Linked DNA regions of Homo sapiens. The protein of the gene in region 4 purifies or fractionates together with the protein of the main gene of each other region. This does not show direct contact. Each region holds a gene or a part of one and is shown on either strand. Other genes may lie near its edges.

Region 1 (6,237 bases), on a different chromosome or scaffold from region 4:
TACTACAGTTAAGACTATCTAGGCAAGAGCTATAAATACAAAAGCAATAGAAATTAAAGAAAGATTTAACTACATAAATTTTAAATTTCTGTACATCAAAATACACCAATCAAGATTATCAAATGACAAACTAGAAAAAAATTGCTAAATATGACATGAAGAATGAGAGAATAGCATCGCTGTGATCAACAAGAACTACCTCGCAAGCATTAAAAAAGGAATAAAGAAGATAGTAACTGTTGCCTTTTCTAAGAAAGATCAGTATGATGTGGAATTATGGACATTCAGTCACAGAAAGGACGTAAGGAACCAAGATGCCATCTGATAGTCAATGCATTTGAAGTGGGCCTAGAAAATCTGCAGAAAGACTAGGTTGTATTTTGTAAACTAAAGCTATTACTGAGAATGTTCAGCTCAAAAATCACCTGACAAATTCATGGAAAGGATGTCATAAATAACATAAAATGTGTTCCCTGGCTTAAAATAAAAAGCACATCAACACTCATACAGATGTACAAACTGTCTGCTCCCTCTGTTTGGTCTGTTTTGCCAGGAAACAAAATGACTAGAAGGCACCCATGTTAATGACAAAACTACCAATAGTCATTTGCTTGAACTGTTTTATGATAGTTTTACCAGAAAACAACCAAAAGACCTTTTATGCCTGTACATGGAAGAAGAAACAGAAACTGTGCCAAGAGGTTCCAAACAATTGCCTCTGGAAAGCACTGAAAAATCAAGACCTAGAAAAGGCTAGCCAGAAGCCCAAGTTTGATTTCGGAAACCTTACAGAGGTGAGGATAGCTATTTTGAAATTACTATGGGGAGGAAGCAGGCACAGAACACAGAACAACCTGACAGAAATGGCCCAAGAATCTTAAAGTCTTGCAAGATGTCTGTCTGCATGAAAGCAAAAAGAAAAAATAAAATATTAAATAAAAAAAAATCTTAGTCTGAAGTTTAAGTAGGGACTTTAATTGACTACTGACTCTAAACTGTGCGGCTCTAATAAATCTACTAAAAGTAATCTAATTTTTTAAAGCACCATATGAATAGACAATTTAGGAAAGAAATGTTAATAGGCCTCAAGGAACATGTTTTTGAAGTGAGCCTTGAAAATCTGCAAAATGACGAGGTTGCATTGTGCAAATTGAAGCTATTATGAGAATGTTCAGGTCAAAAAAATTACCTGACAAATTCACGCACAGGATCTCACAAGGAACACAAATGTGTTCGTTGGCTTTAAAAAAATCACATTAACATTCATGTTGATATACAAAAACTCTTCTCCATCTGTTTTGTGTGAGTTTTACCAAGAAACCAAACAACTGGAAGGTACGTTGAAGATGGCAAAACTACCAACTGCCATTTGCATGAATTGTTGAGCATGACTAGTATTAAAAAAACTTAAAAATTGATATCACTTTTGTTCCTACAAATTGGCAAAGGATTTTATAAACTAGTAAGTCAGCATTAGCAAAAGTGCGAAAATGGCACTATCAGATACTAGCGGTAAGAGCATAAACTGAATATTTTGAATACCCTACAAAACTAGGACAGTGTCCTAGAATTTGTAATGGCATAAACCAGAAACAACATAAATAAAGGAACAGAATTTACAGTACTTCCATGTGATGGGATACCATGAACTCATTAATATTCAAAAAACATTTAAGTTTAAAAATGCTCAGAACTAAAGTAACATTTTAAAAACAGGCTAGCTCATCTACACACAACATAGTAACATGGTAACAATCTCATAAAAAATACTATATGTATAGAGAAAGAACCAGAAGGAAATGCTCTCAAATATAAGAAATGTTAATAAGGTGGTTAGCTTTTAGTTTTCTTCACCCTGTTCAGTACTTCTGAGTATCTCCTATGAGCTCATTAATCTTTAATTTTAATCATCTTATTTTAAAAAAACAAGGACCATCTTGATATATGTTTACTTTTATTAAGGAAAAAGAATCTATGAACACAGGAACAGAAATCAGGAGATCTTGGCTCTCGCCCTTTCAGTGCCACAAAGCTGTTTTGTGAACCTGTAAATAATCCATTTGGAGTCTCCATGTTTCTCAATTGTAAAATGACGATGTGCTGCTTCTACACATTTCACAGGGTCATTGCAAGAATAAAATGAGACAATGAGAATGTTGGATTTACATGCTTGTATAAGAACAGAAGACCTTTTATGCCTGTACACAGAAGAAATGGAAATCATGACCCACAAGGCACCAAATAACTGACTGCACACATCACTAAAAAAGCCCCAGGAAAGGCTAGCCGGTTTGTTTATCCTCTTACAAGGACCTATATGATGTGTAAGGTTTTAAGAAAACAAGGTTTGAACGTTAGACATTTCATATACTTATCTATGACTTACGACATTTAATAAGCTTGACTTCACAAAGATTTTCTGTTATTTTGCTTGTGTTGAGAAGATACTATCACAAAAGGCTAGTGGGGTTGCCTTAACTATAGGAACCATCACACAAATGTGCTCATCTAAACTAGATTTTTTTCTAAATCTTTCCTGGGCTAAAAAGAGAAAAAAAAAAAGGGCACTACTACTACCATTTCAGAAGTCTGTCGTACGTAAAAGGAACAATTTTGTTATTTCTGGCTGCCTGGGAGCAATGTATTATACTGGCAAGTGCTTTGGAGTTACACCACTGGAGTGTGAATCTCGGCTCTATCAATAACTAGCTGTATAATAATGAGTAAGTTACCTAACCTTTCTTTATCCATTTCCTTATTTATAAAAAAGGGATTAATAATGGTGCCGGCCATTCTAAGTTACTGTAATTAAATCAAATTACATTCACACAGCACTTTTGCACACAGCCAACCCACAGTAAACACTATTAGTAACCTTAGTTCATTAACTGTTTACTGTATACTCTAATAAATGTCTGATACACACCCACGCCCACCTGCACATACACAAATGCTCATAGTAATTATGTAAGGCAAGTATTATCTCCACATTTCAGACAGGTTAACTTACACAGCTATTATAGTAAGTGATAGAGCAGAACTTAAAAACCCAGTATGATTCAGGTCCAAACTCCTTTTCTTTCTTTATATAACCATAATATTTCAAATTAAGTAAGATTTCCTATATAACGTCCTGCCTCTCATCATTATCATCAAAATAATTCCCCAGAGGTGTAGGTTCTTAATTAAGCATTTCTTAGTGCATAACTCTATTCAATAACATTTTGCAATTTAAGGAATAATCTCATCTCAGCTCATCTGAGGTGTGGATTAAGTGTTCTTTAAGCCTTTATATACACGTGATCACATACGGCTCGTTTTTTCTGCTTGGGATTATAAAAATCTCCGTAACACCTAATACAGCTTTTGAAGTCACATATAAACAGACGTTGACATGTATATTAACAAACATATATAAACAAGGTGATTTCACACGTTATCTACTTAAAAGAGGGAAGTAAAGTAGTTTTACTAAAATATGCGATTATCCACTTGCCAGCTCACCTGTTAGTGGAGCCCCATGAAATGTCTGTGACCCCTGATATCCATCAGGCACCGAGTCTGGTCCATAATTCTCTGTGGGCCAACGATGACGGGATGCTGACTTACTGCTATTTAGTTTCAACTCCTGCATTTCTTTCTATTGGAAGAAAAAAAAAATCAAATAATTTTAATCATTTAATTATATCATGCCAGAAACAGTGCTGGGGAAACTTACTCTTTTAAATTTAAATAACTGATTTTTTCTTTTTTTCTTTTTTGAGATGGTGTCTCGATCTGTCGTCCAGGCTGGAGTGCAATGGCACAATCTTGGCTCACCGCAACCTCCACCTCCTGGGCTCAAGCAATTCTCCCACCTCAGCCTCCCGAGTAGCTGGGATTACAGGCGTCAGCCAGCACGCCCGGCTAATTTTTGGTATAATAGTAGAGATGGGGTTTCACCATGTTTGCCAGGCTAGTCTTGAACTCCTGACCTCAAGTGATCCACCACCTCAGCCTCCCAAAGTGCTGGGATTATAGGTGTGACCCACCACGCCCGGACCTGATTATATCTTTTGAAAGTTTCTATTTGCCAAAGAGTTCTAGGTACCTGGTGCTGATTTTAAAATATGATTCTTAATTTGTTAAAAATTTATCTGCTCCCATTTTCATTCGTTAATACAAAACCTAATTCATTAACTCTCTCACCTAAACAAATAACCTCCTAAATGATCACACCTTCATTTCCATTCTACACTTGCCTACATTAACCTTTCTGACGTTCACCTCCAGCCAAGACAATTCCCTGCTCAAAAAAACAAGTACCTACAAACTAAACTTCTTTCCCCAACTTTCACAGTCCTCTAACATTACACTGACCATCCTTTCAGTGTGTTCTTTCTACACTGCAACCTGGACTACCTGACATTCCAAATCACCTCCCCAAATTAGCTTTTCACTTAACCCTGTGTTCAAACAAAATACAACTAATTCTCAAGGTGATGTTCAAATGCTCCACCAGGAAAGGGAAAAAAGTAGTAGCTGCAGAGAATTTATTATGTATATAATAATACGTCCAATGCACTTAAACTCTTAATTTTTACACCATCTACACTGTTAGGTAAACAATATTAGCTCCTATCTTAAAATGAGAGAAACGGATGCAGGGAATAACAGCTGGAATTTGAAACACATCTGACTCCAAAAATGTTTTCTTAACACAACTCTGCTGCCTTGACAAGATGGCAGATAGATCCAATGCCGTCTAGTGTAGCTATGTGGCTACCTGATCTCTGCTGAAGAAAACTAAATGACAGCACCATACCCAACACCCTAGAACCTACAAAATGTCCCCTTACAAAACAGACACTTAACAGGAAATTCTTTTTCCAAAGAAATTGTAGTGGTATCAGAAAACAGGTAAATTTTGAAAAGTTTCAAACTTCTCTGTATCAGCCCAGGAATCCGATCAGTTCTAACAAGTGAGGTCAGGGACAGATCTAGCATGTCTGCTTTCTGTTTCTACAAGTGTTTCAATTAAAAATTTCCCAGAAAGACCTAACCATGAGGTCCAAAACTATCTCAATTTTCAAGCTAAATAAAATTTCCCCCATTCATCCATCTACAGTGCCTAGTCCAGATGCTACACATACACATCCAAGAAATAAGAAACTAGTGGAATCACCTAGAAAACTTTATAGTCACTGTTGGTATCCGCACCAGAGCTTTGAATTTGCAATCACTGCTGTAACTGTAATTTTTAACATTCAGTGTGATGAGAACTGGCTTCAATAATTCTCTCATTTTAAAGATAAGAAGCCAAACAGTCACAAAGGAAGTGACTGGCCCAAGATCATTAATTAATGGCAGAGTCAGTACTAGTACCAAGCTTTTCAAGCTCATGGACTAGTGCTCCACTATACTTCCACAGAATACAATGTTGGGAGCCTGAAACCTGTATGTTAAGTCAAAATTGTATGTAATTGTCATAGGCCACGACTACACAGAATTAACATTCAAAATTTTTGTGCAAATTCAAAAATGTCTTCCCCACCAAATAGTATTCTCTTAATTTGCAAATGCTGCTGATCACACTGTAATAATCGCCACACATCAGCATATCCTTGATGTAACTTTAGCAGTATGAGTAATTTAGTTCTTGCTTGATAAACATGAAAGAACCTACTTTTATTTCCAATTCCAAAAAAGTCAAGCTCCTTTGAACCCTATTGTTAAAATAAGATATATATACATAACTATTTCCTTACATAATTAAGTCAAATTCATATGGAAGTATTAAAATATAGTAAGACTTTTTGAAGCTCAGACCACTTTTCGATTCCTAGCTATACATTTGAAACACATGTAATCCACAGCTAATCTGGGAATGAACTCATAGACCAGAGTATGATTAGTACATTGTAGCACTTCAATCACTCGGGAACCTTCTCTGTGTCAGGAACTCTTATATTTTAAATAAAACAGTTTCTACCTTTGAAGGTCTCAAATTTTGTGGAAGATGAGGAGAGAGACACATAAAGTACTTTCAAAAATATGGTAAAGGGCTGGGTGCGGTGGTTTACACCTGTAATCCCAGCACTTTGGGAGGCCAAGGTGGGCAGATCACCTGAGGTCAGAAGTTCAAAACCAGCCTGGCCAACATGGTGAAACTCTGTGTCTACTAAAAATACAAAAATTAGCTGGGCCTGGTGGCGGGTGCCTGTAATCCCAGCTACTCGGGAGGCTGAGGCAGGAGAG
Region 2 (6,237 bases), on a different chromosome or scaffold from region 4:
AAAGAGTAAGTTTCCCCAGCACTGTTTCTGGCATGATATAATTAAATGATTAAAATTATTTGATTTTTTTTTTCTTCCAATAGAAAGAAATGCAGGAGTTGAAACTAAATAGCAGTAAGTCAGCATCCCGTCATCGTTGGCCCACAGAGAATTATGGACCAGACTCGGTGCCTGATGGATATCAGGGGTCACAGACATTTCATGGGGCTCCACTAACAGGTGAGCTGGCAAGTGGATAATCGCATATTTTAGTAAAACTACTTTACTTCCCTCTTTTAAGTAGATAACGTGTGAAATCACCTTGTTTATATATGTTTGTTAATATACATGTCAACGTCTGTTTATATGTGACTTCAAAAGCTGTATTAGGTGTTACGGAGATTTTTATAATCCCAAGCAGAAAAAACGAGCCGTATGTGATCACGTGTATATAAAGGCTTAAAGAACACTTAATCCACACCTCAGATGAGCTGAGATGAGATTATTCCTTAAATTGCAAAATGTTATTGAATAGAGTTATGCACTAAGAAATGCTTAATTAAGAACCTACACCTCTGGGGAATTATTTTGATGATAATGATGAGAGGCAGGACGTTATATAGGAAATCTTACTTAATTTGAAATATTATGGTTATATAAAGAAAGAAAAGGAGTTTGGACCTGAATCATACTGGGTTTTTAAGTTCTGCTCTATCACTTACTATAATAGCTGTGTAAGTTAACCTGTCTGAAATGTGGAGATAATACTTGCCTTACATAATTACTATGAGCATTTGTGTATGTGCAGGTGGGCGTGGGTGTGTATCAGACATTTATTAGAGTATACAGTAAACAGTTAATGAACTAAGGTTACTAATAGTGTTTACTGTGGGTTGGCTGTGTGCAAAAGTGCTGTGTGAATGTAATTTGATTTAATTACAGTAACTTAGAATGGCCGGTACCATTATTAATCCCTTTTTTATAAATAAGGAAATGGATAAAGAAAGGTTAGGTAACTTACTCATTATTATACAGCTAGTTATTGATAGAGCCGAGATTCACACTCCAGTGGTGTAACTCCAAAGCACTTGCCAGTATAATACATTGCTCCCAGGCAGCCAGAAATAACAAAATTGTTCCTTTTACGTACGACAGACTTCTGAAATGGTAGTAGTAGTGCCCTTTTTTTTTTTCTCTTTTTAGCCCAGGAAAGATTTAGAAAAAAATCTAGTTTAGATGAGCACATTTGTGTGATGGTTCCTATAGTTAAGGCAACCCCACTAGCCTTTTGTGATAGTATCTTCTCAACACAAGCAAAATAACAGAAAATCTTTGTGAAGTCAAGCTTATTAAATGTCGTAAGTCATAGATAAGTATATGAAATGTCTAACGTTCAAACCTTGTTTTCTTAAAACCTTACACATCATATAGGTCCTTGTAAGAGGATAAACAAACCGGCTAGCCTTTCCTGGGGCTTTTTTAGTGATGTGTGCAGTCAGTTATTTGGTGCCTTGTGGGTCATGATTTCCATTTCTTCTGTGTACAGGCATAAAAGGTCTTCTGTTCTTATACAAGCATGTAAATCCAACATTCTCATTGTCTCATTTTATTCTTGCAATGACCCTGTGAAATGTGTAGAAGCAGCACATCGTCATTTTACAATTGAGAAACATGGAGACTCCAAATGGATTATTTACAGGTTCACAAAACAGCTTTGTGGCACTGAAAGGGCGAGAGCCAAGATCTCCTGATTTCTGTTCCTGTGTTCATAGATTCTTTTTCCTTAATAAAAGTAAACATATATCAAGATGGTCCTTGTTTTTTTAAAATAAGATGATTAAAATTAAAGATTAATGAGCTCATAGGAGATACTCAGAAGTACTGAACAGGGTGAAGAAAACTAAAAGCTAACCACCTCATTAACATTTCTTATATTTGAGAGCATTTCCTTCTGGTTCTTTCTCTATACATATAGTATTTTTTATGAGATTGTTACCATGTTACTATGTTGTGTGTAGATGAGCTAGCCTGTTTTTAAAATGTTACTTTAGTTCTGAGCATTTTTAAACTTAAATGTTTTTTGAATATTAATGAGTTCATGGTATCCCATCACATGGAAGTACTGTAAATTCTGTTCCTTTATTTATGTTGTTTCTGGTTTATGCCATTACAAATTCTAGGACACTGTCCTAGTTTTGTAGGGTATTCAAAATATTCAGTTTATGCTCTTACCGCTAGTATCTGATAGTGCCATTTTCGCACTTTTGCTAATGCTGACTTACTAGTTTATAAAATCCTTTGCCAATTTGTAGGAACAAAAGTGATATCAATTTTTAAGTTTTTTTAATACTAGTCATGCTCAACAATTCATGCAAATGGCAGTTGGTAGTTTTGCCATCTTCAACGTACCTTCCAGTTGTTTGGTTTCTTGGTAAAACTCACACAAAACAGATGGAGAAGAGTTTTTGTATATCAACATGAATGTTAATGTGATTTTTTTAAAGCCAACGAACACATTTGTGTTCCTTGTGAGATCCTGTGCGTGAATTTGTCAGGTAATTTTTTTGACCTGAACATTCTCATAATAGCTTCAATTTGCACAATGCAACCTCGTCATTTTGCAGATTTTCAAGGCTCACTTCAAAAACATGTTCCTTGAGGCCTATTAACATTTCTTTCCTAAATTGTCTATTCATATGGTGCTTTAAAAAATTAGATTACTTTTAGTAGATTTATTAGAGCCGCACAGTTTAGAGTCAGTAGTCAATTAAAGTCCCTACTTAAACTTCAGACTAAGATTTTTTTTTATTTAATATTTTATTTTTTCTTTTTGCTTTCATGCAGACAGACATCTTGCAAGACTTTAAGATTCTTGGGCCATTTCTGTCAGGTTGTTCTGTGTTCTGTGCCTGCTTCCTCCCCATAGTAATTTCAAAATAGCTATCCTCACCTCTGTAAGGTTTCCGAAATCAAACTTGGGCTTCTGGCTAGCCTTTTCTAGGTCTTGATTTTTCAGTGCTTTCCAGAGGCAATTGTTTGGAACCTCTTGGCACAGTTTCTGTTTCTCCTTCCATGTACAGGCATAAAAGGTCTTTTGGTTGTTTTCTGGTAAAACTATCATAAAACAGTTCAAGCAAATGACTATTGGTAGTTTTGTCATTAACATGGGTGCCTTCTAGTCATTTTGTTTCCTGGTAAAACAGACCAAACAGAGGGAGCAGACAGTTTGTACATCTGTATGAGTGTTGATGTGCTTTTTATTTTAAGCCAGGGAACACATTTTATGTTATTTATGACATCCTTTCCATGAATTTGTCAGGTGATTTTTGAGCTGAACATTCTGAGTAATAGCTTTAGTTTACAAAATACAACCTAGTCTTTCTGCAGATTTTCTAGGCCCACTTCAAATGCATTGACTATCAGATGGCATCTTGGTTCCTTACGTCCTTTCTGTGACTGAATGTCCATAATTCCACATCATACTGATCTTTCTTAGAAAAGGCAACAGTTACTATCTTCTTTATTCCTTTTTTAATGCTTGCGAGGTAGTTCTTGTTGATCACAGCGATGCTATTCTCTCATTCTTCATGTCATATTTAGCAATTTTTTTCTAGTTTGTCATTTGATAATCTTGATTGGTGTATTTTGATGTACAGAAATTTAAAATTTATGTAGTTAAATCTTTCTTTAACTTCTATTGCTTTTGTATTTATAGCTCTTGCCTAGATAGTCTTAACTGTAGTATAGACTTTAACAGTGTTTTCTTTTCTTTTTTTTTTTTCAGTTGCAACTACTGGCCCTTCAGTATATTATAGTCAGTCACCAGCATATAATTCCCAGTATCTTCTCAGACCAGCAGCTAATGTTACTCCCACAAAGGTAACAAAGGAATAATTTATACATTTATAATTATTTTCTTTTTAAATTGTTTAGGGTTCCTTCAAATAAATTCAAGAGAGCAGTTCACTATTAAAACTTTTATGTCCCTTAAAATGTAGATATTTTAAATTTATCTCCAAATACAGAAATTATCCTTCTTAGTCACCTTATTTTTGTGTTAGTAAGTGTGAATATTTAGAATATTTTAAAAATGGGAGTGGTGGTGGTGGATCCTTCATCGTTCTGTTTTAACAGAAATAGAACTGTAATGCCCTTGCTGACCCACTATGTGGTAAGTACTTTCAGGCCTGATACAGCTATATATATAACAATTGATTGAAGACTCAATATTACAGTGGTAGTTGAATGTGACAGCTTTGAGGACAGAGTGTTGGGGTGCATTTAGACCCTTGCTCTTCTGCTTATTTTGACCACAGGCAAGTTTCTTAACCTCTCAATGCATCAGTTGCCTCATATGTAAAATGAGGATAATAATAATACCTTAATTCATAGGGTTTTTGAGGATATTAAAATGAGATAATAATGTAAAGTGCTTAGAACAGTGCCCAGCTGGCACATTAATGAATGCTCAATAAATGTTATCATCATCATCATCATCATTATTGTTAACATCATTTGATAAATTGTTTAGGAATGAAGAAGGTATTTATTTCATGACTATTTTGGGCATGTGGATCAAGAAAATTCACCTTCATTTATGTTTCAGGGTTCTTCTAATACAGAATTTAAGTCAACCAAAGAAGGATTTTCCATCCCTGTGTCTGCTGATGGATTTAAATTTGGCATTTCGGAACCAGGAAATCAAGAAAAGAAAAGGGAAAAGCCTCTTGAAAATGATACTGGCTTCCAGGCTCAGGATATTAGTGGCCGGAAGAAGGGCCGTGGTGTGATTTTTGGCCAAACAAGTAGCACTTTTACATTTGCAGATGTTGCAAAATCAACTTCAGGAGAAGGATTTCAGTTTGGCAAAAAAGACCTCAATTTCAAGGGATTTTCAGGTGCTGGAGAAAAATTATTCTCATCACGATACGGTAAAATGGCCAATAAAGCAAACACTTCCGGTGACTTTGAGAAAGATGATGATGCCTATAAGACTGAGGACAGCGATGACATCCATTTTGAACCAGTAGTTCAAATGCCTGAAAAAGTAGAACTTGTAACAGGAGAAGAAGGTGAAAAAGTTCTGTATTCACAGGGGGTAAAACTATTTAGATTTGATGCTGAGGTAAGGCAGTGGAAAGAAAGGGGCTTGGGGAACTTAAAAATTCTCAAAAACGAGGTCAATGGCAAACTAAGAATGCTGATGCGAAGAGAACAAGTACTAAAAGTGTGTGCTAATCATTGGATAACGACTACAATGAACCTGAAGCCCCTCTCTGGATCAGATAGAGCATGGATGTGGTCAGCCAGTGATTTCTCTGACGGTGATGCCAAACTAGAGCGGTTGGCAGCAAAATTTAAAACACCAGAGCTGGCTGAAGAATTCAAGCAGAAATTTGAGGAATGCCAGCGGCTTCTGTTAGACATACCACTTCAAACTCCCCATAAACTTGTAGATACTGGCAGAGCTGCCAAGTTAATACAGAGAGCTGAAGAAATGAAGAGTGGACTGAAAGATTTCAAAACATTTTTGACAAATGATCAAACAAAAGTCACTGAGGAAGAAAATAAGGGTTCAGGTACAGGTGCGGCCGGTGCCTCAGACACAACAATAAAACCCAATGCTGAAAACACTGGGCCCACATTAGAATGGGATAACTATGACTTAAGGGAAGATGCTTTGGATGATAGTGTCAGTAGTAGCTCAGTACATGCTTCTCCATTGGCAAGTAGCCCTGTGAGAAAAAATCTTTTCCGCTTTGATGAGTCAACAACAGGATCTAACTTCAGTTTTAAATCTGCTTTGAGTCTATCTAAGTCTCCTGCCAAGTTGAATCAGAGTGGGACTTCAGTTGGCACTGATGAAGAATCTGTTGTTACTCAAGAAGAAGAGAGAGATGGACAGTACTTTGAACCTGTTGTTCCTTTACCTGATCTAGTTGAAGTATCCAGTGGTGAGGAAAATGAACAAGTTGTTTTTAGTCACAGGGCAGAAATCTACAGATATGATAAAGATGTTGGTCAATGGAAAGAAAGGGGCATTGGTGATATAAAGATTTTACAGAATTATGATAATAAGCAAGTTCGTATAGTGATGAGAAGGGACCAAGTATTAAAACTTTGTGCCAATCACAGAATAACTCCAGACATGAGTTTGCAAAATATGAAAGGGACAGAAAGAGTATGGGTGTGGACTGCATGTGATTTTGCAGATGGAGAAAGAAAAGTAGAGCATTTAGCTGTTCGTTTTAAACTACA
Region 3 (6,237 bases), on a different chromosome or scaffold from region 4:
AATAAATAAATAAATAACATTCTACTATTTACTCTAAGCTAAAGGTCCATACATATTCTTAGGGAGAATTAAGGAATGTTGGGAGACTTAGGATTCTGTAAAGGGAACAATAATTGCAGTGATCCAAAGGTATTTATAAACTGGATGTGCACTGATGTTGAATATGCATCTTGTTAATTAAGTTCAACATGCTGAGTCATGACTTGTTCCACTGAAATGTTTTCCTGTGCCCACACCTTCAGAGGGATGGCCAGATCGGAGGTGAAGCTTGCACTGTTCCTCTAGACTACTTTGGCTCCTGGACTCCCCAGATCTGTAGGCCATTCTGACTCCTTCAATCTCTCAGTTCTTCAGGAGGTGATGAGTTCTTCAGTAATGTAAGGAAGGCTCTGAATATTGTTTCTATTCCCTCTCAATGTACCCGTTTTCTTACATCATGGAAGTAAACCATTTATGTACTTAGGTTAATGTGTGTGTTTGCTAAAACATCAGCATGTAATCTGGCAAAATGTTATAAAGAAATATTAAAACTTAAAACTTGGGCCAGGCGCAGTGGCTCATACCTGTAATCCCAGCACTTTGGGAGGCCAAGGTAGGCAGATCACTTGAGGCCAGTTTAAGACCAGCCCAGCCAACACAGCGAAACCCCATCTCTACTAAAAAATACAAAAATTAGTTGGATGTGGTGGTGCACGCCTGTGATCCCAGCTACTTGAGAAGCTGAGGCACAAGGATCGCATGAGCCTGGGATGGGGAGGTTGCAGTGAGCCGAGCTGGCATCACTGCACTCCAGACTGGGCAACAAGCGAAACTAAAAAAAAAAAAAAAAAAAGGCAAGGCGCAGTGGCTAATGCCTGTTATCCCAGCACTTTGGGAGGCCGAGGCTGGTGGATCACCCTGAGGTCAAGAGTTTGAGACCAGCCTGACCAATATGGTGAAACCCCATCTCTACTAAAAATACAAAAATTAGCCAGGTGTGGGGCGTGTACCCGTAGTCCCAGCTACTTGGGAAGCAGAGGTTACACTGAGCTGAGATCATGCCACTGGACTCCGGCCTAGGCGACAGAGTGAGACTCCATCTTAAAAAAAAAAAAAAATCTTAAAACTTGATCTCCACACACAAGTTACAATGTACTGAGGTTCACAAAAACACAGAGTTAAAAATCCCAGAAGTAGAGGGCAATACAAATTAATTCCCAAATGAGTGGTACACGCAATATGTATTATGGTTCCAGAAGAAGGATCAAGGAATTATTTGGGGATATTATCACATATTTTTAAAATATTCAAACTTGTAAAATAGGAATAGCATACTTATCTCCTTTTTAATACTCCAATTAAGGATAAAACATACCTAAATAATATTTTTTCCCCACAAAACTCAGTTACAAAGGGAAGATGTTCCCACTGTATATCTATAATCTGATATTAACTGGTTATATGGCTAATCCATTTTTAAAACACGAACTGTAATTTAAATCTATGGGAATCATCAAGCTCTATCATAATGTCTGATGATGCAGCCATTAGCCACCCAGCTTTTACTGTTCCCTCAGCCAAAAAGACTAATATGAGAAAATGCAGACACATCTCCTTTTCTCTCACTCTCTCTCTCTATTTCCCAGCACACAAGTATACGATTTCCTGGAGAGGATTTTTTTTTTCCTTTATCAATTGTAGAAAACAACTTTTTTTTTTTTTTTTTTTTTTTTTTTTTTTTTGAGACGGAGTCTCGCTCTGTCGCCCAGGTTGGAGTGCAGTGGCGGGATCTCGGCTCACTGCAAGCTCCGCCTCCCGGGTTCACGCCATTCTCCTGCCTCAGCCTCCCAAGTAGCTGGGACTACAGGCGCCCGCCACTACGCCCGGCTAATTTTTTGTATTTTTAGTAGAGACGGGGTTTCACCGTTTTAGCCGGGATGGTCTCCATCTCCTGACCTCGTGATCCGCCCGCCTCGGCCTCCCAAAGTGCTGGGATTACAGGCGTGAGCCACCGCGCCCGGCCAGAAAACAACTTTTAAAGCTGGGATTACAGGCATGCACCACTGCACCCAGCTGGAAAAGGCTTTAGGTATCAAACCAACTGTGTAAGACAGTTCAAGATAGCAATAAAAAGACTGTGTGGCAAAGGAATTTCTGGTCCTTAGGGAAATGGCAGCTCATCTAAATGCCCAGCTGGATGGATTATTTGTGTATTTGTGAATAAACTAGCTTGTTTCTACCTTTTCAGTGATTCATTTCTGGGGATCATTAGAGAAGCCTTTTGGAGAAAGCACACTTCATACCTCCTTTGTGACCTTTGAAGGTCACCACGCAGCTAGCATCTTCAGCTGACCATATCTTCAGCTGGGCATCCATTCCCCCACTCAGGACCACAAGGCCTGATGGGAAAAACCTGCAACAATTCACATCAAACACATGTCCTTCCAATACTCTCTGGAAAAACAAAAGAAAATTCCATGCTAGTTCTCTTGTCCATCCCTTGATGTTCTCTTACCTCCCATACTCTGGTCCCTTATATGAAATACCTACATGCTAAACCCACATGCTGGGTTTTAAAACTAAGGATATCCAAAGGATCTCTTAGCTCATTTGTCTAGCAGGCAGTGTTCTAAAAGGTGTTTCCTCGAATTCAGCTATAGAGGTTATAGAACTGAATTCCATGTAAAAACACCCCAGAGCCTAGGTTAAAAAAAAAAAAAAAGAATTCCATGGCTTTCACAGCCATCTCTAGATCTAGTTAAAGAGCTGAGGTGGCTTGGGGACTTTTTCACTCATCTCTGTTTAAAATCCTTTGTAAAGGTTGGAGGCTCAGCCATAGATTCAGTCTAACAGCCAAGCTATTCTGTCTTGGAAATGGATCACTGAAGGCAATTAAAAAACAAGGGCACACCCACTTAGACCTTCACTGGTCTGGCTCCTTAACTGCTCCAGCCCCACTCTGTTCTGCCAAATCACTGAGCTTGAGAAAGGTTCTCGAATTGACAGCTGAGAGGCCAGGAGCGGTGGCTCACACCTGTAATCCCAGCACTTTGGGAGGCCAAGGTGGGCAGATCACTTGACGTGAGGAGTTGGAAACCAGCCTGGCCGACATGGCGAAAGCCCATCTCTACTAAAAATACAAAAATTAGATGTGTGTGGTGGCACATGCCTGTAATCTCAGCTACTTGGGAGGCTGAGGCACAAGAATCGCTTGAACCCAGGAGGCGGAGGTTGCAGTGAGCTGAGATCACACCACTGCACTCCAGCCTGGGCAACACAGCAAGACTGTCTCAAAAAAAAAAAAAAAAAAAAAAAGAGAAAAAGAAAAAGAAACACACAAATGGGAGAAAAGAGATCAACTGACATGCAGAGTGGTCCCACATTTTTAGAATGGGCCATTCTTCCTTCCATGTCCCAGTCCAAGGCTTCTCAGACCACCCTTTGTGTTTAAGACCTAAAAGTACATCCAAATCCTTTACCCTGAGTTCTCCATTGGAAGCCTGCCAGATTTTCATGGTCCCGTCAGTACTAGAAGACACACCAAGACCTCCTCTGCTGGAAATGTCCAGGCATGTTATCTGTTCAAAGAGAAAACAAACAATGTGTTAGAAATAATGAAATACTCTTATTCCCTTGAAATATGTTATAAACTTCCCTTTTTTCACTCTTCCAAGACTTCCTGAAGCCTGTGTTTCCCAACAAAAGGACTTGTGTTTGATGTAAAGGTTGAGTTATCATCACCAACCTCCCAACAAGGCTGAAGTAAACACCTTTTACTTCTTCAAACAAAAAGATATTCCTCTAATCATCTGAAGTCTAATGCTTCAGCTAAAAAGTTTTCCCTATCCCCATTTCATTTCCATAGTTTCCATGTGTTGCATTTATTTATTTGTTTGTTTGTTTGTTTGTTTGACAGAGTTTCACTCCCATCACCCAGGCTGGAGTGCAATGTCCCCATCTCAGCTCACTGCAACCTCTGCCTCCCAGGCTCAAGTGATTCTCCTGCCTCAGCCTCCCGAGTAGCTGGGACTACAGGCGCACACCACTGTGCCTTATTTCTGTATTTTTCGGTAGAGACAGAGTTTCACCATGTTGCCCAAGTTAGTCTCAAACTCCTGAGCTCAAGTGATTCTCCCATCTCAGCCTCCCAGAGTGCTGGGATTATAGGCCACCGTGCCCAGCCCTGCTATTTTATTTTAAAATTAAGACCAGGTGCAGTGGCTCACACCTGTGTAATCCCAACACTCTGGGAGGCCAAGGCAGGAAGATTACTTGAGCCCAGGAGTTCGAGACCAGCCTGGGCAATATAATGAGACTCCATCTCTACAAAAAATTTTAAAGTAAATATAAAAAATAAAAAGAAAATTAAGATACCTCTCCTAATTCTTAGGAACCCACTTACACAAAAGATAATGTTCTAAGATGCACCAGGAGGATTCAAGAGTTCAGCTATTCCTCTCCCTCTCCCTCTCCTTCTCCCTCTCCCTCTCCCTCTCCCTCTCCCTCCCCCTTCCCCTCCCCCTCCCTCTCCCCACGGTCTCCCTCTCCCTCTCTTTCCACGGTCTCCCTCTGATGCCCAGCTGGACGGTACTGCTGCCATCTCAGCTCACTGCAACCTCCCTGCCTGATTCTCCTGCCTCAGCTTGCCGAGTGCCTGCAATTGCAGGCGCGCGCCGCCACGCCTGACTGGTTTTCGTGTTTTTTTGGTGGAGACGGGGATTCGCTGTGTTGGCTGGGCTGGTCTGCAGCTCCTAACCATGAGTGATCCGCCAGCCTCGGCCTCCCGAGGTGCCGGGATTGCAGACGGAGTCTCGTTCACTCAGTGCTCAATGGTGCCCCAGGCTGGAGTGCAGTGGTGTGATCTCGGCTCGCTACAACCTCCACCTCCCAGCAGCCTGCCTTGGCCTCCCAAAGTGCCGAGATTGCAGCCTCTGCCCGGCCGCCACCCTGTCTGGGAAGTGAGGAGCATCTCTGCCTGGCCGCCCATCTTCTGGGATGTGAGGAGCCCCTCTGCCTGGCTGCCCAGTCTGGAAAGTGAGGAGCCTCTCTGCCCGGCCGCCCAGTCTGGAAAGTGAGGAGCCTCTCTGCCCGGCCGCCATCCCATCTAGGAAGTGAGGAGCGCCTCTTCCCGGCCGCCATCACATCTGGGAAGTGAGGAGCGTCTCTGCCCGGCCGCCCATCGTCTGAGATGTGGGGAGCACCTCTGCCCTGCCACCCTGTCCGGGATGTGAGGAGCGTCTCTGCCCGGCCGCCCCGTCTGAGAAGTGAGGAGACCCTCTGCCTGGCAACCGCCCCGTCTGAGAAGTGAGGAGCCCCTCCGCCCAGCAGCCACCCCGTCTGAGAAGTGAGGAGCCCCTCCGCCCAGCAGCCACCCCGTCTGGGAAGTGAGGAGCGTCTCCGCCTGGCAGCCACCTCGTCCGGGAGGGAAGTGGGGGGGTCAGCCCCCCACACGGCCAGCCGCCCCGTCCGGGAGGGAGGTGGGGGGGGTCAGCCCCCCGCCCGGCCAGCCGCCCCGTCCGGGAGGGAGGTGGGGGGGTCAGCCCCCCGCACGGCCAGCCGCCCCGTCCGGGAGGTGAGGGGCGCCTCTGCCCGGCCGCCCCTACTGGGAAGTGAGGAGCCACTCTGCCCGGCCAGCCGCCCCGTCTGGGAGGTGAGGGGCGCCTCTGCCCGGCCGCCCCTACTGGGAAGTGAGGAGCCCCTCTGCCCGGCCAGCCGCCCCGTCCAGGAGGGAGGTGGGGGGGTCAGCCCCCCCGCCCGGCCAGCCGCCCCGTCGGGGAGGGAGGTCTGGGGGGTCAGCCCCCCCGTCCGGCCAGCCGCCCCGTCCGGGAGGTGAGGGGCGCCTCTGCCTGGCCGCGCCTACTGGGAAGTGAGGAGCCCCTCTGCCCGGCCACCACCCCGTCTGGGAGGTGTACCCAACAGCTCATTGAGAACGGGCCATGAGGACAATGGCGGTTTTGTAGAATAGAAAGGGGGGAAAGGTGGGGAAAAGATTGAGAATCGGATGGTTGCCGTGTCTGTGTAGAAAGAGGTAGACATGGGAGACTTTTCATTTTGTTCCGTACTAAGAAAAATTCTTCTGCCTTGGGATCCTGTTGATCGGTGACCTTACCCCCAACCCTGTGCTCTCTGAAACATGTGCTGTATCCACTCAGGGTTGAATGGATTAAGGGCGGTGCAAGATGTGCTTTGTTAAACAGATGCTTGAAGGCAGCATGCTCCTTAAGAGTCATCACCACTCCCTAATCTCAAGTACCCAGG
Region 4 (6,090 bases):
GAATCTGTAGACCTCTTCAAATTCCGGGTGCAAGGGGGCTGAGAGGCTCTTTTTCATGCGGCGGCGAGGCGTTTCGGGTAGCTTGTCTTTGGGGGGCGCTGGCTTGTAGCTGGCCAGCACGGGGCTCCCTGACGGGCTGGCATCTGAGGTCCCGCTGGAGCTCATGAGCTTCTTCTTGGCGGCGTGCAGCTGGGAGGTCAGGTAGGCGATGGTGCTGGCCCGCTGCTCCAGCTCGCTAGACAGCAGGGTCAGCTTGTGACTCTTGGCCTTCAGCTCCTCCAGGTACTTCTTCTCTCGCTCCTTGATGGTGTTCTCCAGCACTGTGATCATCGCGTTTTTCTGCTCCAGTTCTTTCAACAACTCAGCATTTTCGTTCTCTTTCACTTTCAGTTGGGCTTCCAGCTCTTCACATCTTTTCTTTAATTCACTGCTTTTAGAAGTCCCGTCTCCTACAAGAATAAGCCGAGGAAGCAGGTGAAGAACTCATTAGACTGAGGCCGAGTGGTGAGGCCTATGGGGCAGGCGGACCTGTCTGGTGGGGGCCCTGTCTAGGCTGTGGGGGCCATGCAGAAGGCAGGGCTGTGGGGGCTCTGGAAAGACCCCTCCCCTCCCCGAGGTGGGGAGATCGGGGCATCTCAGAGGCCCTTTCCGGCTCTTAGTTCTCTGGCCTACTGCATAAAAGAATGTCTCTGAACCTTAAAGATGCTGAACTTAAAACAGGCAATTGCAGAGTATCAGACCTCAGCAAACACTTAGGATTCAACTGGCCGCAAATCCCTCTGTCTGCTCAGATGGCATTTATGGAATGCCTGCTACATTCAAAGTACTGTTTTGAAACTCAAATGTAAAAAGAATTATCCATGTCTATTGAATTAAAATTCTGATGTTTAGAGGAGAAGAGGTGTGGGGCTGTCACCTTTGCTCTGCCGCTGGCCGCCTCTCTCACCCCCCTACCCCCGTCTCTCTCACACACACACACACACAGACTCTTTCCCACTTCCTGCTCAGAGAGTGAGCTGTCTCGCCTCTGTGGCTCTTACCCTTGGTCCCTCCCTGCCCCTGCCCTAACACTTCGGGCCTCTGCCTCCTTTTGCTGTCCCTGGGTGCCTGCCCTCACCCAGTCCTTCAGCAAACACCAGCCACCTCCTTCTCCTGCTCTTCTGGTGACCTGCAGTCCCTGGTCACCTCACATAGCACCCTTGGCTCTAAACCCTGGGTCACCATCCTACTCCTCCTAACGCTGGCTGGCTGGCCATCCTCCTTGCCTGGCCCCTGGGAAGTTCTTTCTAGACTCTTCCTTGCTGGTCTGGAATTCAACTTGAGCATCAGCTCCCGATTCAGTGTCTCCTGAGCACCACTTCTCCAAGTGAGTGTCCGTCAGACACACCCTCAAGTCCAGATAGCTGCTCTGCTTCCCACATCTTGACTCTCCCAGGGAAACTGGATGCAGTCGCCATCCCTGGCCTCCCCTCCCTGACTGTGCCTTTCTGCTGGCTGCTCAGTGCTGCCCCCTCCCTGCTCCTCCAGCCGGCCTTGGTCCCACCTCCTCTCTGGTCTTCGTTTCAGCCCATCCTGTATTTAGGAAGCTTGGTCACCCCCTAAATATTCTTGTCCTCTGTTCAAAATGGTTCCTCACTGCCTAATAAAACCCAAACTGCCAGATGCCTTCCAGTTCCTCAATCTGTCCTGAATGTTATCTGCTCCCACATAAATCAAAGCTTCCATCACTCTCCCCAAGCCACCACCTCTTGTTCTGTCTCTATTGTACCCTCTGTCCTTGCCCTAACTCCAGACCTGCACGCCCAGTTTCCCTGTACCAACTCCACCACCCAGGGCCTGCCTAGGCACTGGACGCCACTGGACGTCTTTCCCGGGCTTCTGTCTGTCTTGCTTTGAATTTTCCCACCTGCCTGAGCTAGCAGCAGCTCTGCAGCATGTCCCGCCGCCAGACTCTGAGCTTTTGAGGGCCCACAGCTGACTGGACTGGTCTTGTGCAGGACACTTGCATGTTACAAGCTCGCTGCAGGTGATGGGCGCTCCTCGACTTAGCATGGGGTCATGTCCCGAAAAATCCAATGTAAGTTGAAAATACCGTAAGTCAAAAGTGTGTTTTCGATATTTTCAGCTTACCATGGGTTTATCTGGACATATCCATGGTAAGTCGAGGAGTGTACTGAATGGGTATTGCCCCATGCAGTTGAAAAATTTTAAGTTGAACCATTGCAAGTTTCTAGTTTTAAAAACCATGTGTCTGTGTGTGTATGTGCAGGTATAATGTCAGCAAATGACCTCCCTAAAAAGGATGCATGCAGTACTACCTTTCATGAGGTTTCTTCTTTTGCCAAAAGGAAAATAGATCCTAAAACACAGTTTCAGAGGTAGAGAGAGGGACAGAGACACACACACGACTCTGTAGACACTGTAAGACCCAGGAGCCCAGCCACCTGGGCTGAACCCCTGCAACCTGAAATGCTGACCTGGGCACGGCATTGGGCCTGGTACCCGCTGTCCTTCCCCCAGGGCCTGTGGGACAACAACCCATGCCTGTCGCAGGGCCTTTGCTTTCAGCCCACACTCGGGTGGACAGTGGGCCTTGGGCTCCTTCCGAGGAAGGGCTGCAACCTCAGACCTTCAACCACATCCCTGGCCTGCTGTGAGCATCCTGGGATTTTTCTTCCCCCAGGCAGTGCTGCAAAAGGCTGATGGACGTTTGGAACATTCAGGAACAAGGCTGTCCCTGGGCTTTGCTCATGTCCTGTGAGGGGCAGCCCACAAAGGCAGAGGGCCCTGGTGGTCGGACTGGGGACTTGGATTTGTGGGGCACCTGTCAGATGAAGATGCAGGTTCAGAGATGTCAAAGAACCTGCCCAAGGCCACACAGCCCCTCCGAGTCAGAGCAGAGGCCCAAATCTGGGGCTCATTAAGCATCACTCTGGTTCTTTTCGCCACAGCATCCTGAGAGAAGCTCCTCCTGGATAGACATCCTCCTCATCATCCTTCCTTGAGAGTCATCTAGCTGTGCTGCCTCCTCCTCCAGGGTGCAGCCTTGGCTCCGGGCTGATGTTTACCGGCCCCGACTTGAGTGGGCCGTCCTGTGGGAAGGAGCTGGTACGACTGCTCCTCCATCCCCAGCTCTGGAGAGCTGCTTCAGTGACTGTCCTTCCCAGGAATCAGCACCTCCTGTTTTGCCAATTTCTTGCTCTTTATAGAAAGCTCCACTCCACCTCCTCCTCTGTACGTACCCCCTTTCTGGAAATTTCAGTCTTCCCATGAAAGCTTGGTGCACACTGAGCTGACAGCAGCCAACTGCTGCTGGTCTCCAAACGCTGCACTGCTGAGCCTGCCCGAGCGTCAGGGCACTGCAACGCTTCTAAACCTGCGCACTCCCTGGGCCCGCCCAGACTTCTGGGGTCACAGCCCCCAGGGGAGGGAAGCCAAGAGTCTATGCTGTACCCTGGGTCCCGAAACTGCTTGGAATTGGGCAGTTTTGGGTGCACTAATGTAAAACAATGATTTTCACCACTGGGAGGGGAGACGCCCCGACTGGAACCACCTGAGAGGCTTTTGAAACTGCCTCCCCTAAGACACAGCCCTTGCTGTGAGACCCTGCTGCTGCTGGGAGTACTACATCAGGTGGGTGGGTGGGTGGGCAGGTGGCCTTGGGACCTCAGGTTGAGAACCGTGACTGGAGAGGCCACAGGGCAAAACTATGCTGCTTCAGATTAGCCTGGGCCAGGAGAGGACAGGGAGCGAGGACGCCCTGGCTTCCATGACACGGGTAGCTCCTTTCCCAAGGCTTCAGTGCTGGCAGGTGTGGACGCTGGAGGTCCCTAGTGTCAGGCTGAAATCCTGTTCCTCTGCATTCCCACAGGCCCAGCTCCCAGTCCCAGGGCTTCGGGGGAGGTCCCTGGTATCCCTCCACAGGGAGACTTCTGAGGACAGGCTCCCATTCCACCACCCCAAGAAGCCCACGGCGCCTTCCCTACCACACGCAGACAAAAAGATGTCTGGGCTCCTGGGTGGCGCACTCAGGAGGCTGTAATATGAGCAATGCAAATGGAAAAAAATCAGTGCTCGGTAATCCACTAAGGCTTGGTGGAAATGGTCTGTGTCTTTTACAAGGAACTGGACACTCTCATGAATAGTAACTGCCATTGTGAGGCCTGTTTAGAAAAAGGCATTGTGGGGAATGGAGAAGTTCTTCAAAGTTTCTTGAAACCATAAAGAGCTTGTCATTTCCTTGCTCTATGTATATCTCTATATATGTTCCAGTGTAGCTGCTCCGCCTTGCCCCGGCACGCCTGCGCAGGGCTGAGCGAGCCCTGGACCATAGTGCATGCTCTTCCTTATTTGGAAACTCTCCTGACCCTCTCATGACTAGCTTCCTCTTTTCTTTGTCCTCTTTCCCTTTTGCCTATTTAGGAAAGTTTCAAGCTGTTAGCCAATCGGGTCAAGCTTAGAATGTGAGGTCCCATTCCAGTCAATGGAAACTGGACACAGTCATAGGGCAATTGCATCAGGTTATGAAGATTATAAATGTCCTCGTCTCCTTTGTTTGAGTGTGCTCTCGTGGTAAGACTGCTGGCGAGTTGCACCCTTTCTGCAGAAAGTAAACTAGCCTTGCTGAGCCATCCATTGCCTTCCCGACGTGATAAACCCGTTTCCAACAGGTGTCTCTGCACAAACATGGATTCAGCACTTTCCAAACACCCACCCTGTTTTAGGGAGCAGGCTCTTTGCAGCAGGCACAGAGGGCCCTGGGAAGGCCTGGGTTTCTGTCTCTTCTCTGGCGGCCAGCAGGCAGCTGCCCTTTGGGGTTTCCTGAGGTCCTGGAGGATTCTGGTTTGGGGAGGGTTCTGGGGCTGTAGTCCAGAGAAAGCCCCAGATCCTCAGGGAGCTGTCTAGTAATGTGACCACTCGCCCGCCAGCATTTAGCAAGCTGCTGCTCTGTGCCAGGCCCATGCTAGGCGGCAGCGACACGGAGGAGCGGGGGCGGTTCTGCCCAATGCTGCTGCTGCTGTTACTCCTCCTTTTGGGTTTAACTCACGTCTATTTTTATGTCCTGATTACACAAGGAACACATGTTCATTGTAGGAAAATCAGAAAAACATATAATAGGCATTCCAAATATATGTGTCATTCAAAAGAAAACAAAATCACTCATCCCCCTGCCCACTAATAACCACTTGCAACACGGAGGGATCCAAACATCCTTCTCATCTTCTCTTAGAGAGCTCAGGCCACACGCATAACTCTTCCCAGCAAGAGCATTTTCTCCTAAGTGTGTGACTAGTGAAAACGGCACCAACACGTACCACAAAGGGAAACCTACTGTCATTTACTTCTGGGGAGGAGTTCTTACCTGTCTGTTCCGAACTTTTGACTGTCAGCTCATATGTTAAATCTAAAAGGGAAATGTTACACATTAATTCTTTTACTGTACATTTCAAAATCTTCATCAGCTTTGAAAATGCAAAACCGATTCCCACGATTAGCCAGCGAGTCCTACCCAGACAGAGCAGGGTTTGGCAGCAGGAGAGGTGAGCATGAGAGCAGCAGAAAACATCTGCGGCCACTGTGCTCCCTGGGGTCAGAGGGCACCCTCTGTTCCCCCAAACTCCCTTCCCCATTCCCCCACAGCATATCCCAACCATCCAAACCAAACAATCCAGCAGCTGGCTCTATGTATCACACAGGCTATATCTTGGTTATCAGTTCCAAAACACATTGGAGATTCTAACCATTGTATTTTAATCTCTTAAGTCCTCAGTATGCCAAGAAAAGGCTTTGCAGCTTTATGCTTAGTGCATCTTGATTATGCAATGAGGATGATATAAGGCATTCAGATGGACTCCTGCAACGATGATGGGAGCTGGGGGCAGGGCAGGCCTAGCACATTCTGACGCTGGGCTCTGCCGTGCCCCATAGCCGCCCCCCGCCTGCCCGGGCCTGCTCCCCGATGTACCTGTGCAGTGCTGCTGCAGCCGCCTGATCTCGGAGTGCAGCCCCTTGAGCGTGCTGGCATGCTCCCGCTGAAGGAACAGGAGGTTCTTCTGTGCGCTGTGCAGCTGGTTCTCCAGGTTTGTGGCT
Region 5 (6,107 bases), on a different chromosome or scaffold from region 4:
TCGTCAAGGACTAACTCCTTGTCTTCAGCACACTTTGCCCAGATTGACAAGGTTGAGTTAAACAATGTTGGTTCTCATATGTTGCATTTATTTATTCAGCAAATATTTGTTGAGTTTCCGTTTTTGCTCAGTGAAGGGCATACAACAGTGAAGAAAATATATAAAGACCTTCCTTTCATGTAGTTTCCTGTCTATTGAAGGAGCCAGGCAGTAAATATAATTGTACAGTTACTTATATAATTACAGCTGTGGTAAGGATTATACCTTTGTGTTCTATTTGTTATATTATTTTGCAAATGTTTATTTATCGACTTGTCTTACCTATTAAGTAGAGTTGGCTGAGAGCAGGAAGCATATCTGATTTATCTTTGTAGCCCCAGCATAGCAAGATAGTAATCGCTTTAGTAATCATATCAATAATGGGATCTCAGACAGCATACATGGCCTAGACTGGGAGGGAATAAGGAAAATGGCAGGGACAAAAGAGGGAAGGCTTCCTGAGGATGCGATACAGGATCTGGGTCTTGAAGGATACAGGTATTCCTATAATCTTCAGAAACATTTTTTTTTTTGAGACAGAGTCTCGCTCTGTCGCCCAGGCTGGAATGCAGTGGCGTGATCTTGGCTCACTGCAAGCACCACCTCCCGGGTTCACGCCATTCTCCTGCCTCAGCCTCCCGAGCAGCTAGCCTACGGGCGCCCACCACCATGCCCGACTAATTTCTTTTTGTATTTCTAGTAGAGACGGGGTTTCACTGTGTTAGCCAGGATGGTCTCGATCTCCTGACCTTGTGATCCGCCCGCCTCGGCCTCCCAGAGTGCTGGGATTACAGGCGTGAGCCACCGCGCCTAGCCAGAAACATTTCTTTAAGACTGCTTCACCCTTGTAAATGGTCATTGTATGAGATGGCCATTTTGGATCCTGCTTAGTATTTTCATTATTAGTTTATTTTGGTTTTGCTCTTCTACCTTATCCTGTGCTTAGCTGGTTCCATTGTAGAAATAATTTTCTATTTACTGGTTGGGATAACTATTTTTATTTCTGCCTACTTTCATGCTTGGTTGTGAAGCAGGCCAAAGTTTCTCAAACATTAATCTTAGGAATCTTATTAAAATGTAGATTCTAATTCAGTAGTTGTGGGGCAGAGCCTGGGATCCTGAAAGTCTAACAAGCTCGCAGGTGTTGCTGATGCTACTTGTCTGTGGAACACATTTTGAGAGGAAAAAACTAGGCCATAAACTTGTTACTTCTTTTTCATTAAAACGTAATAGGTTTTGAAAAACTTAATCTTAAAATTTGGAAAAGACTTAGAAGTAGAATTTTTTAAAATCACAGAAAGTTCTACCTTTTGGTGTATTTCCTTTTAGTTTTTGTATTAGTGTGTGTTTATTTTTGGTGAAATATTTCAAATATAGTTGTATCTTGCTACCTCTGCCCAGTCCTATTCCCCTTCCTCTGTTCTTAGATAAAATCACTATCACAAAGTCAGGGCCCATAAATGATTTCATATTTCTACTACATATTGTGTGTATCCTTAAATAAAACACAGTATTTTAGATATTCATAAACTTTGTAAGTGGTATCATGCTGTTTGTATCATTCCATTAGGTTGGTGCAAAAGTAATTGCAGTTTTTGCTTTTTTTTTTTTTCTCTTCAATGTTACGTTTTTTTAAAATTTGTCTATGTTAAAAGAGGCAGTTAGAAAGTTGGTATTTCATTGAATAGCCACAATATATCATTCTCCTATAAATGAAGATTTAGATAGTATCTTACAAATGATACCACAATGAACATTCTTGAAAATGTTTGTGCACTATATGAGTATCTTGAGGTTAGTCTTTTCTACTTTAGTTTTTATTTTTCCACTGTTGTAATCATGCATTGTTTATAATTTGAATCTGCTTTTTTTATATAACAGGTTTACCTGTATCATTTCCTATTTTTTGTAAACATTATTGTTAATGTTTATTTTTATTGCTATATACCATAATTTACTTAACCATTCTCCCATTATTAGATATTTATATTGTAACTTTCACACTATTATGAACATTTTTGTATACAAAGATTTTTCATATTTAAGATTATTTTATTAAGTTAGATTCTCAGGAAGGAATTTACTTAGACAAAAGGTAACATTTTTAAAGTTCATGTTGCCAGATTTCTTTGTAAATATTGTGCCATCCCATTAACAAACAACTTCCACTCAGGGGAATTGTATTCTTTCTGCCTTCCATTTCAGGCCATTGCAAACCAACCCTGGGCTCAGAAACTTATGTTTAACAGTCCAGGTTTTGTAGAATATGTGGTGGACCGGTCTGTGGAGCATGACAAAGCTTCAAAGGATGCCAAATATGAACTAGTGAAAGCACTTGCCAATTCCAAGACAATTGCAGAAATCTTTGGGAACCCAAATTATTTGAGGCTCAGAACTTACCTGAGTGAAGGGCCATACTATGTGAAACCTGTTTCCACGACAGCAGTAGAAGGAGCCGAATGATTTCTTCTAGAGCTCATGTAGAGGACCACGTTTTGACCAAAACTTCTCCTAAGGCATTTGACTCCATCTATATTTCACAAAAGAGACTTCCTTTCCCCAAGAATTATCATGGAATGTCAGATGTTACTTTGTTACCAACACTGTTATATTTCTACATTGAAATGCAAAGTGGAACTAGGAGTTTGGAATGCATTAAGAGCAGACAAGCTTGGTCATAATAGATCCAGTGTTTTTCAGATTCCTTTCACTGCCTTAATCTTTGCAACAGGGTGGAAGTTTTTTTCTTCCCTCAAAATTTTCATGGACATGCAATCTTATCTAAAAGCCTGCTTCAGGGCTGGGCGCGGTGGCTAACACCTATAATTCCCAGCACTTTGGGAGGCCAAGATGGGCAAATCACTTGAGTCTAGGAGTTCAAGACCAGCCTGGCCAATATGGCAAAACCCTGTCTCTACTAAAAATATAAAATCAGCCAGGCATGGTGGCGCACACCTATAATCTCAGCTACTCAGGAGGCTGAGGCACGAGAATCGCTTGAGCCTGGGAGGCAGAGGTTGCAGTGAGCTGAGATCTTGCCACTGCACACCAGCCTGGGCAACACAGCAAGACTCTGTCTCAAAAATAAATGAATAAAATAAAAACCTGCCACCAAATTATTTCTGGATTCTCTTCACTATCTTTTTTTTTCTTTTTGGTCCTTTTTCCATTTCTGATTCCACTTTCAAAGTCTTGGATATATTCTTTGAAAAATGAGTAGTATGGAATATTAAGATTATGTTCCTTATACTCAGAATACTTTTTATGAGCTCTCTTGTTTTTTTGTTACTATTATTCCTTTGAAAAAAAGACAAAATATCTAAAAAATGTTTATAGTGTTCATGTAATTTTTTTTGCTGTTTACCAATGAACTTTGCCCTGTTGTGGTTTTGGGGGATCAGAAGGATTCCTAAACTGTCATTTCATTTATTGGTAGGTCATGATTGCTGAGGGTTTTGCTTTGGATTTTTCATACCTATAAAGTCAATCTTGAGTTGATCAGAGAAAGGGAAACTTACTCCTAATAAACAGACTCAGAACAGAAGGGACATATGCATAAATCAGGATACCATCTCATTAATTTACAAAGGATAATCTTTCTTTTCATTGACAACACCTACACCCACCTGTTTTCCAGTGTTCTTCTCTCTAAACAGCAAAGCCAAAGCACTCTGCACACCAAATCACCTGTTCAGAGGTTTATGCATGAGCATATTTCTTTTAGGCCGTGGTGAAGTTGATAAACCACCCCTGCTTTGTAACAAAATTATTTTAAAGTGACTGGAATTATCTAGTCCCCAGATTGATCATCTCCCCTGGCAACGTGACTCTGTTTTTTGTGTGTGTTTCCATGCTGACTAGTCCCCTACTGTTAATATCACTACTAATTAGGCTATAACCAGGTCTTTCCTGGCCTGAGAAATATTCTCTTAAAATGACCTTTGTTTTAATCTCATTCATGATGTTGATTTTTTTTCAATGTGGTGCAATATATACAATAAAATTTGTCATAACTATTTTAAGTGTACAGTTCAGTATATTACATATGTTCATAAGTTGTACAACCATCACCACCATCCATCTTCAGAATTATTTTCATCTTATACAATTGAAACTGTATTCATTAAACAATAACTGTCTATTCCCTCTTTTCCCCAGCCTCTGGCAACCACCATTCTGCTTCATGACATTGATTTTATTCACTTAACATCAGATTTTGGGGGGATGCCCTCTCTCCTATGTATGGTCTACACATTCTGATTTTTTTTTTAGATTGAATAAAATTTGTAAATCATTATTTTCATTTCATAAGTAAACACCTGTTGACTGCCTATTATGTTCTTGGGATTGGGGAAGGTGCTAGACATTGGCCTAAGTGCCAAGTGCATCTCATTTAATTTTTACATCCCTGTTTCACAGATGAGGAAACCAAGACTTTAGTAGCTTATCTGAAAATCACACAAGAAGAAAGTGTCTTATATTGGAAGAAAATAGGTCAATAGAAAATTAGAGAGTATAAGAAGTACAATAATAGAGGAAAACAGAAAACACGTCCCCTGACTTTAGGAAATGTTTTCCAGGGAAGGAAACACCTGCATCTTGAAGAACTAGTAGGAGGCAATCAAGTGAAGAATACAGTGGAGTAGCAAAGCAAGACAGCAGGTACACATGAAAACAAGAGAACATGTTTGAGAAACTACAAGTAATTCAATATGACCAACGCCTAGGATTTAAAGGGAAATTTTTGCAAAATTCTTTATCATTATTACTAATAATAGCTACCATTTCTTAGCATTGATTTTATGTTAGGCACTTGGCATGCATTTCTTACTTTATCATCATAATAGCCATAAAAGTTACGTATCATTTCACAGACAAAGGCACTAAACTGGGAAATTAAGTACTTTGTACAGGTCGCAAAGCCAGAATATTAATCTGATTTTCTGAGGATTAGTTGTACTCCCCTTTTGTCACTTGGTTATATTTTGAAGGTAATAGTAGCTAACAGTTACTGAGTTTTTAATGTGTCCCAAGCATTTTCTAAGAGGTTTTCATGTATGAACTCATGTGGCCATCGTCACACTTCCAGGAGTTATATAACAAAACCAAGGCACAGCAAAATTCAGGAACTTGCACGGGATCGCATAGCAAATAAGAGAAGTCAACATTTCAACCTAGGCTGTTTAACATAGAATATATGTTCCTAAATACTGCCTCTTCCTCTTAGTGAACATTTACTATGGACCAAATCCATTGACAAACACTTGACATATCTCATGTAGACCATCAACCACACAAAGATTGAGTTTGTACATAAACAGGGTCAGGATGACTTAACAACATATCAAAAAATCTGGTCTAATAAGTGTCATGGCAGGGACTTTCAAGGTATATAACTTTGGGAACACCTAAAAATCTCAAGAGCCCCAAGATGGGAACTACTGATCTAATCATTACACAAGAGAAATCAGAAAGTGTGTGTTGTGGGTTGAATAATGTTCCCCAAAAATATGTGTTCAAGTTCAGGTACCCCCAGTACCTGTGAACATGATCATATTCCTCAATGGAGAGGAAGCCAGGTGCAGTGGTCACGCCTGTAATCCCAGCACTTTGGGAGGCGGAGGCGGGTATATCACCTGAGGTCAGGAGTTCAAGACCAGCCTGGCCAGCATGGTGAAACCCCATCTACTAAACAGAAAAATTAGCTGGGCATGGTGGCACATGCCTGTAGTCCCAGCTACTTAGGAGGCTGAGGCAGGAGAATTGCTTGAACCCGGGAGGCAGAGGTTGCAGTGATCCCAGATCACACCACTGCACTCCAGCCTGAGCGACAGAGTGAGACTCTCGTCTCTAAATAAATAAATAAATAAATGGAGAGGAGGTAGGGCATCTTTGCTGATGTAATCAAGTTAAGATGACATTAGGGTGGGCCCTAATCCAATGAGTAGTGTCCTTACAAGGAAATTTGGACACAGAGACACCCAGAGGGAAGATGATGTGAAGTTACTGACACACAGCAGTCCATGTAAAGGTGAAGGCAGAGGTTGAAATTACACGTTTGCAAGCCA

The links.
Region 1: the proteins of CCDC92 (region 4) and RGPD8 purify together in Homo sapiens (affinity purification with mass spectrometry; one large-scale study listed by BioGRID and IntAct). This does not show direct contact.
Region 2: the proteins of CCDC92 (region 4) and RGPD5 purify together in Homo sapiens (affinity purification with mass spectrometry, with the first as the bait; one large-scale study listed by BioGRID). This does not show direct contact.
Region 3: the proteins of CCDC92 (region 4) and PAAF1 purify together in Homo sapiens (affinity purification with mass spectrometry; one large-scale study listed by BioGRID and IntAct). This does not show direct contact.
Region 5: the proteins of CCDC92 (region 4) and PSMD5 purify together in Homo sapiens (affinity purification with mass spectrometry; one large-scale study listed by BioGRID and IntAct). This does not show direct contact.

The regions. Positions count from the first base shown.
Region 1 is NC_000002.12:112,391,114-112,397,350, forward strand, and holds part of RGPD8 (RANBP2-like and GRIP domain-containing protein 8), read right to left. Parts: intron 3,641-6,237; coding exon 3,505-3,640; intron 2,107-3,504; coding exon of another isoform or gene 1,994-2,106; intron 1-1,993.
Region 2 is NC_000002.12:109,831,234-109,837,470, forward strand, and holds part of RGPD5 (RANBP2-like and GRIP domain-containing protein 5/6), read left to right. Parts: intron 1-83; coding exon 84-219; intron 220-1,617; coding exon of another isoform or gene 1,618-1,730; exon of another isoform or gene 1,731-1,786; intron 1,787-3,763; coding exon 3,764-3,858; intron 3,859-4,585; coding exon 4,586-6,237.
Region 3 is NC_000011.10:73,896,466-73,902,702, reverse strand, and holds part of PAAF1 (proteasomal ATPase-associated factor 1), read right to left. Parts: intron 3,558-6,237; coding exon 3,459-3,557; intron 2,434-3,458; coding exon 2,283-2,433; intron 1-2,282. UniProt on the Homo sapiens protein: Inhibits proteasome 26S assembly and proteolytic activity by impairing the association of the 19S regulatory complex with the 20S core.
Region 4 is NC_000012.12:123,937,382-123,943,471, forward strand, and holds part of CCDC92 (coiled-coil domain-containing protein 92), read right to left. Parts: coding exon 5,966-6,090; intron 5,405-5,965; coding exon 5,363-5,404; intron 450-5,362; coding exon 1-449.
Region 5 is NC_000009.12:120,814,301-120,820,407, reverse strand, and holds the end of PSMD5 (26S proteasome non-ATPase regulatory subunit 5), read left to right. Parts: intron 1-2,244; coding exon 2,245-2,502; 3' UTR 2,503-4,355; downstream 4,356-6,107. UniProt on the Homo sapiens protein: Acts as a chaperone during the assembly of the 26S proteasome, specifically of the base subcomplex of the PA700/19S regulatory complex (RC).